2 separate regions of the Homo sapiens genome follow, and region 1 is linked to region 2. Evidence: fine-mapped expression QTL. A gene starts in region 2. The other region holds a variant in brackets. All regions are shown on one strand. Distances are between the middles of the regions. Region 1 overlaps ARHGAP40 (Rho GTPase activating protein 40). Region 2 holds the start of ARHGAP40 (Rho GTPase activating protein 40).

Evidence for each region. PIP is the estimated chance that this variant, and not a neighbour inherited with it, causes the effect.
Region 1: its variant is fine-mapped to the expression of ARHGAP40 in unexposed skin (GTEx, PIP above 0.99). The same link has a PIP of 0.9 or more in breast, esophagus mucosa, lung, prostate, stomach and sun-exposed skin.

The regions. Positions count from the first base shown.
Region 1 is chr20:38,625,070-38,633,406 of GRCh38, forward strand. It overlaps ARHGAP40 (Rho GTPase activating protein 40), which reads left to right. Exons shown (of 15, transcript NM_001164431.3): 3 at 1,926-2,146; 4 at 3,858-3,933; 5 at 4,433-4,581. Among named protein-coding and RNA genes, the nearest start is that of ARHGAP40, 27 kb to the left of the region's middle. The variant C/G (reference allele first, on the strand shown) is at 3,878.
Region 2 is chr20:38,598,179-38,606,515 of GRCh38, forward strand. ARHGAP40 (Rho GTPase activating protein 40) reads left to right here and starts at 3,631. Exons shown (of 15, transcript NM_001164431.3): 1 at 3,631-3,901. The coding sequence starts at 3,765. RefSeq lists an enhancer at 2,212-2,753.

The DNA of each region.
Region 1 (8,337 bases), 27 kb after region 2:
CTTGCCCCTGGTTGGCAAAACAGACCACGTGGTGATGCAGACCTCCTAAGGGCCTAATAGTCTCATGCAGTGCCTCCAAGTGTAAATGTAAAAACATCCCTGGTTACACTAGAAGTGGTTTCAGGAGATGCCCTGCATAGGAGGTCCTCCATGTGGCCTCTCTGGAATCATGATGTGGCCAGCAATCTAATTTCCCACAATACACAGGGAGTGGAGTCAGAGTGGGTCAGAGAGAAGCCACTTTGAGCAACCAAATAAACACAGGAGCTTTTTTAGACTCACAGGGCTGAGGGATCCTGAGTGGCATGGAGCCAAGACTGGTTTTTTTTTTTCCTTTCTTTTCTTTTTATTTATTTATTTAATTTTTGAAACGGAGTTTCACTCTGTCACCCAGACTGGGGTGCAGTGGCACAATCTCAGCCCACTGCAACCTCCATCTCCTGGGTTCAAGCGATTCTCCTGCCTCAGCCTCCCAAGTAGTTGGGACTACTGGCATTCACCACCACACCCGTCTAATTTTCGTATTTTTAGTAGAGATGGGGTTTCGCCATGTTGGCCGGGCTGGTCTTGAAATCCTGATCTCAGGTGATCTGCCCACCTTGGCCTCCCAAAGTGCTGGGATTACAGGCATGAGCCACCATGCCTGGTCATCTTTTCTTTTTATTCGGACACCAACTTGAACCAGAGGGATTGTTAATAATTTATTTTTCCCATCAATGTCTACTCATGGCAGGTGATGTTGGATGCTCCATTTATGGTGGGGATCTTGTTTCCTTTTAAAATAGATGTGTTTTAGTAAAAAATGTAGCCCATGATTAAGGGGATATATTTGGTAAGGAATTTTACAGGGACAATTAGATACAGATAAAAATTATAAAGGTGGTTGGTGAATGCCTACATTTCAAGAAACAGTGGCTCATTGAAAGGATCCTGTACAAACAAAAAAATGTCTGGCATCATGATAGAATCAGTACCTCCACCAGCCAGCACAAGTCAGGAATGGACCCACAACATTGCAACTGCCCTGGAGGCATCTGTTCTGGTTCCCAAGTGCAGGGAAAGTGTTGGGGGAAGACTTGGATTATTTGCAAAACCCAGGCTGCCATAAAAGCAGTTTTGTTTGAGTTTTTAAAACACTTATTACCTTGTTGACTAACTGGGTCAACACTGGGTACAACTGTACACCCCACCAATCCTCTCACACATGTGTTCAATTTCCAGTAAGAGCTCTTGTCCATTTCCCCCATGATAAGGCCAGTGTTTCTCAAGTGTGGTCTGAAGACCCTATTGCATTAGAATAATCTGAGGAAGACATTCGAAGTGCAGATTCTCAGGCCCGAGGCCTGAACTCCTGGAACAGAATCCCTGGAGGTAAGACCCGAGATCCTGAAATCTCAACACACCCTCCCATTCCAGTTAATGGTTTTGCTATGGGACTATGAGAGTTTCCTTAGGAAGCACAGTAGAGGGGACAATTCCAACACAAATAAGGTCTTGAATATGGAGGACTTCCCAAAGGGACATCAACACCCAGCACCAACTTCCCAAGGGGACACCATGTGACCCTGTAGTGGTCTCTGCCAGATTTTGGATAAGTGGGTTCATTACTTTGGAGAGAAGTGGGTCCAAAATCTGAACATGCAGGGCCCTTCACCCACCTCTGTTTTCCAGGGATTGCTATGTTATGGGTTGACATCCATACACTGGCTAATGCTATCAGTACCCCCCACCCCGCCCCCAGTTCTCAGAAGGCTCATTAGATCTTCTCCCCCGGAGAGTCTGGTTGGTGTTAATAGGTCTCACGATCAGATATGCAGAAACTCCTGTGTCCAGGTGAGTGTGTGCTTCTATGCAGAACTTTGGTTAGCACGAGTGGCTGAGTGCAGAGCTGTGTGTGTTCATCTGGGTTCTACTTCTGTTGGCAGAAGGGGAAGCTGAATCCCAGTGGCTGCAGGACACAGGCCTGTCGGGCCTCCTTGGTGGCCTGGGCTTGGATGGTGATCACCAGGAGCTCCTGTCCACCCTGACACAGACCCAGGTGGCCGCTGTGTGCCGCCGGCTGGACATCTATGCTCGCTCAGTGCGAAGACAACACAAGACACCTGTCAGAGATGTCAGGGATGTCTTTGGGGTCTTCAATTCAGGGGTAAGTGGCATATGGGTCATTGCAGGCCCCGTCTGACTGGGATCTCTGTGCTGCCGCCACAGCCTGAGAGATGCAGTGATCCTGCTGAAGGGCTGTGTTGGTGTGTGTATGTGTGTGTTGGTGTGTGGGTGTTGGTATGTGTGTTGGTGTCTGTGTGTTGGTGTGTGTGTTGGGGTGTGTGTGTGTTGGGGTATGTGTGTTGGGGGTGTGTGTGTTGTCTGTGTTGGGGGTGTGTGTGTTGGTGTGTGTGTTTTGGGGTGTGTGTATGTTGGTGTGTGCATGTTGGTGTCTGTGTGTTGGTATGTGTGTTGGGGTATGTGTGTGTGTGTTGGTGTGTGTTGGGGTATGTGTGTTGAGTGTGTGTGTTGTGTGTGTTGGGGTGTGCGTTGGTGTGTGTGTGTTGGTGTGTGTGTGTTGGGGTGTGTGTGGGGTGTGTTGGTGTGTGTGGGGGTGTGTTGGTGTGTGTGTTGTGTGTGTGTTGGTGTGTGTGTATTCAGAGTGCAGTGGCTTGCACACGTATGTCTCCCTGCCTTCCACTATGTCCCTATGTTGCATGTAGGTCTTCATCTCCCATGCATGCCACTGCATATATGCCTGTTGCCACTGTGTGTCCTTGGGTGAGCCTGAAAGCCTAGGTTCTTTCTATATAATTGTTATTGATGCAGGGCAGGCAAGCCCCTAAATTGGGGATTAGCTCTGGAAGCTTTTGGTTTCACTCAGGAAAGAATTCAAGAGTGAGCTGGTGGTAGAAGAAAACAACACTATGGAGGCAGCAGTAATACAGTGGCGTGACTGCTGCTGCAGAGCGGGGCCACCCGATAGGCCGTGTCCAGGACAGCAGCCCAGGGGCAGGACCACCCTATAGGCTGTGTGTCCAGAGCAACAGCTCAGGAGCAGTTCTGCCTTTTAATTACATGCAAATTAAGGGGTGAGTTATTCAGAAATGTCTAGAAAAGGGGCAGTAATTTCCAGGTGTTGCCATGGCAATGGTAAACTGTCATGGCACTGTGGGCATGTCTTATGGAGAGGTGTTTTTGCCTCTTCCTTGTTTCAGCCAAAGTCCCACCTCCTACCTCATTATCAGTACAAAATCCTTTTTTTTTTTTTGAGACTGAGCCTCGCTCTGTCGCCCAGGCTAGAGTGCAGTGGCGACATCTCGACTCACTGCAAGCTCCGCCTCCCGGGTTCACGCCGTTCTCCTGCCTCAGCCTGCCGAGTAGCTGGGACTACAGGCGCCCGCCACCATGCCCGGCTAATTTTTTGTATTTTTAGTAGAGACGGGGTTTCACTGTGTTAGCCAGGATGGTCTCTATCTCCTGACCTGGTGATCCACCAGCCTCGGCCTCCCAAAGTGCTGGGATTACAGGCGTGAGCCACCACGCCCGGCTGGCACAAAATACTTTTTTATTGTCACTGTGTATCCTGCTGACACTTGAAGCCTGATAGGTTGTGGGCATCATCTTTCTTGGAGCACCTCTGAAGTGGCATAGCAGTGATTAAAACCACAGGCTTTGGAGCCAGCCAGACTTGGGCCCCAGTGCCCATTCCCCGACTTAGCAGCTGTGGGACTTTGGGCAAGTAACTCAGCCTCTCTGGGCTTCAGTGGCTCCATCTGTGAAAAGGGGTTGTGGGTGGCTTCTGTCTCCCAGGGTTGTGTGAGCATTGTCAGCTTCCCACATGAGTAATTGGGCACTGTCTGTAATTTGCATAGAAAATGTCGTCAGAGAATGG[C/G]GACTCCGGTATGAAGGGGGCCCAGCTCAGTTCCGGGGCCTCTAAGTTTCCTCCAGGTAAGTGGTCTTCATTCTCCAGGGCCCTGAGAATCCTCCAGGCTGCATAAAGGGCTGCTCTGTGAAGTAAGAGAATGTGCACACCTCCCAGCATTTCCTGCTTCCTGCTGACTCCCTGCCTTCCCTGCTCAAGGGCAGTAGGGAGGAGCCCTGAGGGGACAGGTTGGGCCCTTAAGTGAGCTGTTGCCATCAGGCCCATGGGGCTCAAGATGGGAAAATTCTCTTCCTGGGCAATTGGCCTTAGCTGGGAAATCACTTCCTGGGGCAGTGAGGGTCTTAGCTAGGAAATCATTTCCTGGGGGCAATGGGCCATAGCTAGGAAATCACTTCCTGGGCAATGAGCCTGAGCCCTAAACCTAATGATTTGATCCTGGGGCTTTGAACTTGAGCTTGGGAGCTCACTTCTTAGGACTAAGGGCCTAAGTCCCGAACCCAAGCACTTGCTTCCTGGCAGCCAGTTCTCACTGCCTTTCTCTGCTTTGTTTCCCCCGCCCCGCAGCAGCAGAGCCTGGGGGGCTGCAGGAGCAGGCTGGGAGGGAAGAAGCCTTCAACATGGACTCTGCCTACTCAGAACAAGCTGCGGTGCTCCTGCAGAGGAGCAGGCCATCCCGGGGAGGCACCTCTGCCTGGGGCAAGTGTTCCCTGCCGGTGAGGATGCTGTCCACAGGGCTGGTTGGCTAGGTCCCCCTGTGCTCAGGCACCAGCACCCATCTCTTCACACCTTCCACACTGACAGGCATCCAGCACAAAAGTTGTTAATTCATTCATTCATTTAATTCGTACCACAAATATTTACTGAGTGACCGCTGGGTATCAAGACTGGGGAGCAGGATGCTTACAGTCTAACAGTCCTGTCAGTATTGTCTCCATGCTCTTTGTTTTTATCCTTAGAAAGCCCTCCCTCCTCCAGCAAGCTCATAACTGTCCATCAACATGTTTTTCTAGTTACTTTTAAAATTAATTTTAGTGCCTGGAGTGACAGAGAGAGACCCAATATTTTAGTTCTGTTCTTTCCTCCCTCTCTCCCTCCCTCCCTTCCCTCCTCCTCCTCCTTCTTTTTTCTTTCTTTCTTTCTTTCTTTTTCTTTCTTTCTTTCTTTGTTTTTCTTTTCTTTCTCTTTCTTTCCTTTCTTTCTCCTCCCTCCTTCCCTCCCTCCCTCCCTTCCTTCCTTCCTTCTTTCCTTCCTTCCTTTTCTTCTTCCTTTCTTTCCTTCTTTCCTTCTTTTTTTTTTCTTTGAGACAAGGTCTCACTCTGTCACCCAGGCGGGAGTGCAGTGGTACCATCCCAGCTCACTGCAGCCTCAACCTCCCAGGCTCAAGCTATCCTTACACCTCAGTCTCTCAAGTAGCTAGGACTACAGTTGCATGCCACCATGCCCAGCTAATTTTTAAAATTTTTTTTAGAGTTAGGTTCTTCCTACATTGCCCAGGCTGGTCTCAAACTCCTGGGCTCAAGCAATCCTCCAGCCTCAGCCTCCCAAAGTGCTGGGATTACAGGTGTGAGCCACTGCACCTGGCCGTTCTTTTTTCCCAAAATATTCAGTTATCCCAGCATAGTTCCTTCCAAATAGGATGTAATCATTGATAGTTAGGTTTTTAAAGATTGAACTATAACTCGCTGTTAAGTGCACAGATATTTACCAGGTACAGCTTGGTGTGTATGCCCGTGTAAATACCAACAAATGAGTACAGAAACTTCCTCCCTTGCTTGATGGCTTGTAATATGGAAAAAGAAAGAAAGAAAGAAACTTCCTACCCCACCACCCCCTCAGTGCCCGCATGCCCTTCCCAGGTAATTCCTTTCCCTGCAGAATAACCACTATTCTGACTTCTCTCATGGAGTAAATATAGTCTTTCACAGTCCCTCTATTACTAAAGGAAGTGTTTCTTCTTTGACCACGTGATGATGCAGTCGATGCAATCTTAGGTAACATTTTACTGAGGGCTGCCCTGGCCCAGGGCATTGTTCCCAAGGCTTCCAGTGCCCTCATTGCTCCCTGACTATATGATAGAAAGAAAGAGAAGTAGGATCGGGCACAGTGGCTCACGCCTGTAATCCCAGCAATTTGGGAGGCCAAGGCGAGAGGATTGCTTGAGTCTAGGAGTTTGAAACCAGCCTGGGCAACATAACAATACCCCATCTCTACAAAAAATTTTTGAAATAGCCAGGTGTGATGGTGCAGGCCTGTAGTCTTAGCCACTTGGGAGGCTGAGGCAGGAGGATCACTTGTACCTGGAGGTTGAAGCTGCAGTGAGCTATGATTGCACCACTGCTCTCCAGCCTGGGCCACAGAGCAAGACCTAAAAAAAAAAAAAAAAAAAAAGAGAAGTGGCATATGTTAGTCTGTTTTTACACTGCTGATAAAGGCATGAAAGAGGTTTAATGGACTTACAGTTCCACATGGCTGGGGAGGCCTCACAATCATGGTGGAAGGTGAAAGGCACGTCTCATGTGGCAGCAGACAAGAGAAGAGAGCTTGTGCAGGGAATCTCCCCTTTTTAAAACCATCAGATCTCGTGAGACTTATTCACTATCACAAGAACAGCCTGGGAAAGACCTGCCCCCGTGATTCAATTACCTCCCACAGGGCCCCTCCCACAACACATGGAAATTCAAGATGAGATTTGGCGGGGGACATAGCCAAACCATATCATGGTGCTCAGAGAGGAGAAGTGACAGAATTGGCTCCCACAAAGGCCAGGACAGGAACACCTGGCAGCCTGACCCTGGAGCCTTCCCAACTGACCACCACTCTCTACTGCTTAGGAAACCAACCCCACCCCCTGCAGTAGCCTCTATTCCAATGTGAGAGTACTTTCACTCATTCAAATGGAATTTTCTTAGGTCCACAGCAAGTTGCAAAAACAGAACTCCCACGTACTCTGCACCTAGTTTCTCTTAGTGATAATATTTTCCATTAATCATAGTACATCAAATAACATTTATATTTATTTATTTATTTATTTAATTTTTTCTTTTTTGAAACAGTCTCACTCTGTTGCCCAGGCTGGAGTGCAGTGGCAAAACCTCGGCTCACTACAACCTCCACCCCCGACGTTCAAGTGATTGTTGTGCCTCTGCCTCCCAAGTAGCTGGGACTACAGGCATGTGCTACCACACCCAGCTAATTTTTGTATTTTTAGTAGAGACAGGGTTTCTCCATGTTGGCCAGGCTGGTCTCGAACTCCTGACCTCAGGTGATCTGCCCGCCTCAGCCTCCCAAAGTGTTAGGATTACAGGTATGAGCCACTGCACCCGGCCTAAATTTTTTTTTTTTTGAGACGGAGTCTCGCTCTATTGCCCAGGCTGGAGTGCAGTGGTGCAATCTTGGTTCACTGCAAGCTCCGCCCCCTGGGTTCATGCCATTCTCCTGCCTCAGCCCCCGAGTAGCTGGGACTACAGGCGCCCGCCACCATGCCTGGCTAATTTTTTGTATATTTAGTAGAGATGGGGTTTCACCGTGTTAGCCAGGATGGTCTCAATCTCCTGACTTCGTGATCCGCCAGCCTCGGCCTCCCAAAGTGCTGGGATTACAGGCGTGAGCCACCGCGCCTGGCCTAAAATTTTTTAATAATGAGTTTCTATTTCTAAAACATCAGAGATAATTAATATTCAACATTATCTTGTCTTTTTCTTTGACAGTGTTTCTCCATTAAATTATGAATGATGATAATAATTAATCACGCTAAAGGGCCAGGCATGGTGGCGCACACCTGTAATGCCAGCACTTTGGAAGGCCAAGGTGGGAGGATCACTTGAGGCCAGAAATTCGAGACCAGCCTGGGCAACATAGCAAGACCCCATCTCTACAAAAATTTTTTTTAAATAATTGGGTGTGGGCCAGGCATGGTGGCTCATGCCTGTAATCCCAGCACTTTGGGAGGCCGAGGCAGGCAGATCACTTGAGGTCAGGAGTTTGCGACCAGCTGGGCCAACATGGTGAAACCCCATCCCTACTAAAAATACAAAAGTTAGCTGGGTGTGGTGGTACACAACTATAATCCCAGCTACTTGGGAGGCTGAGGCAGGAGAATTGCTTGAACCTGGGAGACAGAGATTGTAGTGAGCAGAGATCACGCCACTGCACTCCAGCCTGTGTGGCAGAGTGAGACTCCGTCTCAAAAAAAAAAAAAATAGTTGGATGTGGTGGTGTGTGCCCGTAATCTTAGCTACTCAGGAGGCTGGGGCAGGAGGATCACTTGAGCCGAGTTCAAGGTTACAGTGAGCTGTGATTGTGCCCCTGCACTGCAACCTGGGTGACAGAGCAAGACTCTCCTCTGAATAATAATAATAATGCTAAAGACATCACATATTGATCTTTTACCACACACTAAGCATTATGCCAAGTACTTCACATATTTGATTTAATTTCATTCTATTAAGTTAGTGATAACTGTGTTAATA
Region 2 (8,337 bases):
GAGAAAGAGGTTGAGGGATAGTGAGGGAGGTTGGAGAAGAGAGTAAAAACAGGCTGCTTAGCGGATTTAAAATTGGTGAGATGTTCCTTGGGCTGGTGGGTCTGAGGACCCGAGGTCATAGGTGGATCTTTTTCACGGAGCAAAGAGCAGGAGGAAAGGGGATTGATCTCCCAAGGGAGGTCCCCTGATCCTAGTCATGGCACCAAATTTCATGTGCATCCATGTGAAGAGACCACCAAACAGGCTTTGTGTGAGCAACAAGGCTGTTTATTTCACCTGGATGCAGGCAGGCTGAATCCGAAAAGAGAGTCAGCAAAGGGAGATAGGGGTGGGGCCGTTTTATAAGATTTGGGTAGGTAAAGGAAAATTACAGTCAAAGGGGGGTTGTTCTCTGGCGGGCAGGAGTGGGAGTCACAAGGTGCTCAGTAGGGGAGCTTTTGAGCCAGGATGAGCCCGGAGAAGGAATTTCACAAGATAATATCATCAGTTAAGGCAGGAACAGGCCATTTTCACTTCTTTTGTGGTGGAATGTCATCAGTTAAGGCAGGAACCAGCCATCTGGATGTGTACGTGCAGGTCACAGGGGATATGATGGCTAAGCTTGGGCTCAGAGGCCTGACAGTCACATTCAGAGCTACTGGGGCTTAGGCATTCACATGTTTTTCATATGTTTTTGGTAGGACACTTGAACCCATAACACTCTCTTGAGAGTTTATCATGAGGATTGAATGTGGTAATGCATGTAAAGCTGTGATCACAGTGCTTGGCTGGCACTTCATTCCATAAATTACTTTTGAAAGAAAAAATTGGCTGGGCATGGTAGCTCATGCCTGTAATCCCAGCACTTTAGGAAGCGGAGGTGGAAGCATCACTTGAAGCCAGGAGTTTGAGACCAGCCTGGGCAACATAGTGAGACCCCTGTCTCTACAAAACAATAAATAAAAATGGCTGAGTGTGGTGGCACACGCCTAGTAAATCCTAGCTCCATCCAGAGACTGAGGCTGGAGGATCGCTTGAGCCTAGGAGGTCAAGGCTGCAGTGAGCTGTGATCACACCACTGCACACCAGCCTGGGTGATACAGTGAGAGCCAGTCTCAGAAAAGAAAAAGGAAGAAGCTGAGCACCTGGAAATTAGATGCTCTATGTACATTGTGTGCCAGGCCCCATTTAAGTGCTTGATGTGTATTATCCCACCAAATCCTCACAACCACCCCTCAAGCCAGGCAAGGTTTTCATTTAAATGATGTGGAAGCTGTGACTGAGAGAGGTTAAGGCATTTGCCTGAAGTCACACAGCCTAAGTGGCAGAGCTGAGGATCAGCCTGAAGCCTATGAGGCTCCACCTCATCACACTACATAGGACTGTGCTGTAGTGTGGAGTGGGGGCTGCTTGGAGGGGCAGAAAGCCAGGGAGGAAATGCTGAGCACACAGCACACAGGCCCTGGGGGGCTTTCTGGGTCTGAGGGACCTGGAATGAGTCTCTGCGATAGTGAGAGGCCTAGCTGATGGCAGGCTGCCTGGGGAGGTGCTGGCGAGCTGCCAGGGTGCAGGGCCAACAGGTCTGAGCCACTCCACTGTGACCTAACCGGCCTGGCCGATACTGCAGGTGGGGGGCTGGGACAGGGCTCAGCCGGGGGTGAGGAATGTTGCCCTGAGCGTGGGTACACTCACTTCTCCAGGCTTCATTCTGAGTATACGCGCGGCTCTCCCGGAAGCGAAGAGGGCACTTCCTTACAGAGGCTTGAAAGTGTGGTCATCCAAGATTCAGGCCACTCTCTCTTCCTTCCTGCTTTCTTCTGAAAGGTTCCTTGCACCTAAGGAAGGTAACAATGAACTATGTTTTCAGTCTGGACTAGAAGTTCATTTACCCAGGTACTAACTTGTTTACTCACTCAAGCATTTATTCATTCATTCACTCATTTACTCTTCCCCCCATTCACCTAATGGCTCACTGATTCATTCATTCACTCATGCTCTCACATATTCATGCCCACAGCCATTCACTCTTCCACCTACCCATCCACCTACCCATCCATCCATCCATCCATCCATCCATCCATCCACCCATCAAACCAACCATCAACCTCTTATTCAATTGCCTTCCCATTCATCCCTTCTCTCATCCCCCATTTTCCCAACCAATCTTTCATTCTTTCTTCCATCTATCTATGCATCCATCTATCCATCCATCCACCCAACCTTTATTAAGCACCTACCATGTTTCCCACCCAAAACTCCCTATGGCTCCCAAAGTAGTTCTGCACCCACTTCGGCTGACAATTCACCTACATATTGGACCCCAGCTCCTTGGCCTCACAGTGGCATGGTTCCCTTGTCTCCTCCTCAGGAGGAGGCTCAGGAGAAGTGGATGGGTGGTCTTCTGCACAGCCCTGGTCTGCAGGTTCCAGCCAGTGACAGCCACCTGAAACTTGGGGTTTTTCAGGACCCTTTGTGTTGCGAGGCCTTTCCCGTCTTTAATGCCAGAACCATGCATGCTCCTGGGCTCTATGGCTCCCGTGGGGCCCTGTTTTCAGTTTCTTGGGGCCCATTTCTTGCCTCCCTAAGGCCAGAACAGAGCTTCAGACTGTGGGGACCCATAGACTTGGGGGCCCTCCTTGATGAGGACTCTGGGGCCTCTCTTCTTGGAGTACAGGTGAATATGCTTCCTGGAAAGATTCACTGACACCCGGAGGCTTAGAGGAGGGCAGGGCGGGCCCGGGCAATCTGGGGAAGTCTATGGCATTCAGTCCTGGCCAGAGGGCAAGAGAAGGGGCTCATGGTCCAAAATGGATGCAGGGAATAGGACACCGCCAGGGAAGCTGGCAGGAGCGCTTCTCATACGTTCCCCAAATGCCCTACTGCAACACCTTGGCTTGTGTCCTTGTTGGCACCTGGAAACCCCTTCCCACTCCCCACCCTGACACTCAGCCTCTGCTCTCCTCTCAGCTGAGTCCACACTCTCCTGCTCTTTGCTTTCAGACACTCTGGTCGCCTTCCCCCAGGGCCCCTACAGAGCTCCATAAAGATTTGCTAAGTGAATGAATGAGTTCTCATTTTACAGAAGAGGGGGTTAAATTCCCTGGGTTTTCCCCTTACCCAGCCTTTCCCCAGCTAGTTCCTCCTCCTTTACATCCCAGCCAAAAGACCAATCCCGGGAGGCTCTCCGGACGCCCCCTCACTTTGCCACTCCCATTTCCTGCTCCCTTCCTATCCTCCCGCCCCCGTGCCCAGGTCCTGCTCTCTTTACACCCTGACATCTTCCTGCTTGCTTTTTTCCTGTCTCCTGGCAAATGTCACCATCCCCATTTCACAGAGGAGGAAACCGAGGCTCAGAGAAGCCTCAGAGGGAATAGCCCAGCCAGATAAAAACCCCTGGGTCGTGAGCACGTTCTTCCACCCATAGTAGCCAGGTGCTTTATTCATGTGGTTTTACTCTGAAATCGGGATGGCTGTAGGTAATAATAGTGGCCATGCAAATCATATTTCATGACAGTTTTTGAAAGGCGCCGTTTCCACCTCGCAGTTCCAGTGCAGGCGGGTGGGACTCAGTGGTGTGTGTGTGTGCGGCGAGTGCCTGCCTGTAGGTGGCCCCGGCCAAGCCAGCCCCGCCCCAGGAGGAGGCTGAACATTAGTCCTGCATGAGGGTGTCTGGGAACTGGGTGCGCCACGGGGGCCCTACCTCACTCCTCCCTCTCACATTGCCGATCGAGTCAGCCCCACGGCGGCAGCACCACGACCGACCGGGATCCTCGAGGTGCCAGCCCATGGCCGAGCCTGCCCTCCTCCCCGCCGCCCAGATGGAGAGGCTGGCCCCAGGGCCCCTAGCCTCACCGTGTCCTCGGATCCCGCGGGCCCGCATTGCCAGGCGCTGCGCCCAGCGCTGGGCCGACCTGGGCTGCAGGTACAGGGGTCACGGGAGCGGGAGGGAAGTTGGCCCTACTATGCACCAGGGGCATGTGCGGTCTGTCTTCACAACATCCCTGTGAGGCAAGAATCTTCCTCCATCGTACAGATGAGGAAACAGAGGCTTGGAGAGCCCGGTCACCTGGCTGTCAAGTGGTGGAGATGGCTTTTAGCCCTAGTCCATGGGACTCCAAACCCAGAGCCTTCCTGGGACACAGCATTGCCCTGGGTTCAGGCTACTGGCCTCCTGCAGGGGTCACTGATTTTCAGATTCTTAGAGACCGTGAGTGACGCCAGTATGTGCCATTTCCTCTTCCTCTGGGTGTAGAGTCTTAGGGGGCCCAGGGGCTCAAGATTCAGGAGTCTCTGGGTCAAGTTTCTGGGTCAGTGTGGCCGTGTGGTCACCTCGGCTGAGAACTGGTCACCCCTTATTCCTGCTCAGCCTGCCACTGACAGCCAGACCAGAATTTTCAAATAGTCATTTCCCCCACTCTGATTACATCATATTACAATTTGATTATTATAGAAAGTCAAACAGTGCAGGAATACTGTACAGGAATACATATGTTCATTCTTGAAAACTTACTACTGTTAAAGTTTTGACATATACCTTGGGAGAACTTTTTGACATATGTAAACCTAAACTTGTATAGTTTTACACAAATAGGCTCTTGTGTTACATGTGCTTGTAAGGTTTTCCCCTGCAACCCCTCAATTAATGTTATGGACATATTTACATGTCAGTAACATAAAGATCCAATTCATTCACTTTAGTGGCCTGCCAGGATCCAACTTTATGGATATCTTTGGTTAATTTGAATCAGTTCCTGGCTAATGGACATTTAGGTTGGTTCCAATTTTTAACGATTCTAAGCAATACAGCAATGAACATCTCTGGGGACTTGCATGGGTAAAATTCACATCCTAGACTTGTAGTTGCAAGTTTAAAAGGAATGTTAGAATCTGAATAGACCCTGCCCTCCAAAAGTGTTCTAGCTTGGAACACACCTGCAGCAGGAGACCCCCATTGCCCCATTCATTTGCCACCCAAGGACCTGAAGACTAGACGTGGTCTGTACTCAGAAAGCAGATTCAGGGAGCAGGTGATCCTGATCGTAGGACAACTGAGTCCTAGAATTCCCTTAAGGGAACAACTTCTAGGCTCAGGAAAGGGAGGGGGAGCTTAGTGAGACCATTTCATTCATACAGCATGTTCGCTGAGCTCCTATGTGCGTGGGGCTCTGCCCCATCACAGGCAAAAATTACTCAGGATAGGATTTTAATAAGAATCAATTTTAAGAAGCCAAAGACAAGTTTGTTTATCTGTCTATCTATCTATCTATCTATCTATCTATCTATCTATCTATCTATCTATCTATCTATTCTATATCTAATCTATCCATCTATCTATCTATTCTGTATCTAATCTATCTATCCATCTATCTATTCATCTATCTATGTTTCCTATTGCTGCTATAACAAATCACATAAGCTTATCTATCATCTCTCTCTCTGTCTCTCTCTCTCATTTATATTAGTTTTCTATTGCTGCTATAACAAATCACATAAACTTAGTAGCTTAAAACGACACAAATGTGTTATCTGACAGTTCTGAATGCTGGAAATCCCCAAATCGAGGAGTCTGTAGGGGTGCATTCTGTCTGGGGGCTCTAGCAATCTGTTTCCTTGCCTTTTCCAGCTTCTGCAGCTGCCCACATTCCTTGGCTGATGGTCCTCTTCCGTCTTCAAAGGCAGCTCTGTAACATCTTCACACATCTCTCTGACTCTGACCTCCACAGTCATCCCCATGTCTCCTTCTCTGACTCTCCTGCCTCCCTCTTTCATTGATAAGGATCCTTGTGATGACATTGGGCCCACTGGCTAATCCAGGATCGTCCCCCCAACTCAAGATCCTTAGCTTAATCACATATGCAGAGTCCCTTTGCCTGATAACATATATTCACAAATACTGAGGATTAGGATGTGGACATCTTGGGGAGCTGTTATTCAGCTGATCACACCATCTATCCAACCATGCGTCGTCCGTCCATCCATCTATCTACCTATCTACCTACCTATTATGGCTGTTCCCCTGACTCCACCACCACCCTCCCTTAATCTCCTGGTTCCTTGTGATCTTTGAGGCAATTAATATTGAATTCACTATAAGAGCTCGTGACCCATTGAATGTGCTTAATAGCTACTGGTTGAATGAACAGATGAAAAATACTTAAGAGAGTTTAAAATTTGAACCATTCTGTTTATTACTGAAAACAAAACAACAAAAGCAACATTTTTACTTCCAGAACAGTGGTGTTTTTTTTTTTTTTTTGAGATGGAGTCTCACTCCGTTGCCCAGGCTGGAGTACAATGGCACGATCTCGGCTCACTGCAACCTCCGCCTCCCGGGTTCAAGTGATTCTCCTGCCTTAGCCTCTTGAGTAGCTAGGATTACAGGCGTGCGCCACCACGCCTGGCTAATTTTTGTATTTTCAGTAGAGATGGGGTTTCATCATGTTGGTCAGGCTGGTCTCGAACTCCTGAGCTCATGATCCACCCGCCTTAGCCTCCCAAAGTGCTGGGATTACAAGCGTGAGCCAATGCGCCTGGCCCAGAACAGTGGTTTTTAAACCAGGGTTCTGCAAACATTTTATTTGAATTTAATTTTTATTATATCTTTCAAGTATTAAACATCTAGTAAAAATACTACCTCCACTCAGGTATCCCAAATGTTTTTTGTCAACTAAAATTATCTTGATTGTATGATCAGTAAATGCTTTAAATTAAACTTATAAAATCAGCTTATAATAATATCACCGTTACCTCTTTTGTTTATTGAGAAGACATTCCACTGCCAAAGAAAAAAAAAAAAGCGAAAACTACTTCCCTGGAACAAGGTTGGTCTGTTTGCTCCAGGCTAATGTTCTTGTGTATTGGCTCACAAGGTCACTAGGTCAGCTCCCCCAATCCTTTGAGTCTGTTCATCTCACTGGTCCCTTGCTTGTGAGTCATTTAGTTATTCAACAAATTCCAGCAGGACGGCAACCTTCAGGATGTAAGCCCGGATCTGTTCTGTTTACCCACAGCTCTCCAGCACTGGCACAGGGCTGGCTTGTTGTAGGTGTTCATGAAATATTTCCCTGATGAATGAAATGCTCACTGCCTCTACATGAAGTCCTGTGATGGATATGAGGGTGTGGGCATGAATAAGATGCTCTCTCAGCCCTTAAGATGTCCACAGGCTGGTCCAGGAGGAAGACATAACACTGGTCACTACCACATAATACACTAAATGCTGACCTGAAAGGCCTGAGCAGGGATGAATAGAGTCAATGTTGTCATCAAACAGAACATCCCATAATGTGAGGGGGACACCGAATTCACTGTCTATGTGGACTTCATCTTAAAACCATGCAATATTGGCCTTGGGAGGTGCCTCAAAGACCCAGTTGGAGTGAGGTGACTCTGTTGGGATTCCCCTTATCCTTGCTCCCTGTAGAAATATATTTTCTGTTAATTCATGATTGGTATAAAAATGCAAAAAAAGTAGCAAGTGAAATCCACCTGCCCCTCCCACCTCCAACCCACAAGAACAGCAATTGTGAGAAGTTAAGTGTACATCCTATAGGATTTTGTGCTTCATAAATATTTACATACATGTATACGTAAAATGTATCTATGATCCAATCCATGCACATAATTGTACTTACATACGTGAATTGGTTTGTATTATGTATACTATTTTATAAATGACATTTCCATCTTTATAATATCTTTTCCTGGAAAGACATAGAAATCAACATTATTCTTTTTTTTTCTTTTGGAGACAGAGTCTTGCTCTATTGACCAGGCTGAGGCTGGAGTGCAGTGGTGGAATCACTGCAGCCTCAACCTCCCAGGCTCAAGTGATCCTGGGACCACAGGCATGCACCACCACGCCTAGCTATTTTTTTCATTTTTGTAGAGACAGGGTCTCCCTATGTTGCTCAGGCTTGTCTCAAACTCCTGGACTCAAGCAATCCTCCTGCCTCAGCCTCCCAAGTAGGTGGGACTACAGGCATGTGCCACCACACCTGCCCTTACGTTATCCTCTTTAAAGACTGTGTGATGTTTCATTTTATGACTGGACAGTACTTTTGTTAACTAGCCTCCTGTTGATGGAATTTTAGGTTGCTTCTTTTTCTCTTTTGGTTGCTATTATAAACTATACTGCAATGTTCTTGGACATATATCTTTGTGTACTTATGATACATTTTCAGAATAGGAATCATGGAGTCCAAAGGTGTATACATTTAAAATTCTGAAACATATTCTGGGTGGTTTTCCAGGAAGGTTGTACCCAATTAGACTCACCAAGTGGGTGTGAGCTTGTTTCCTAATATACATGACATTCTTGACCAGACATTATTGTTCATTTTTAGTCTTGGCTAATTG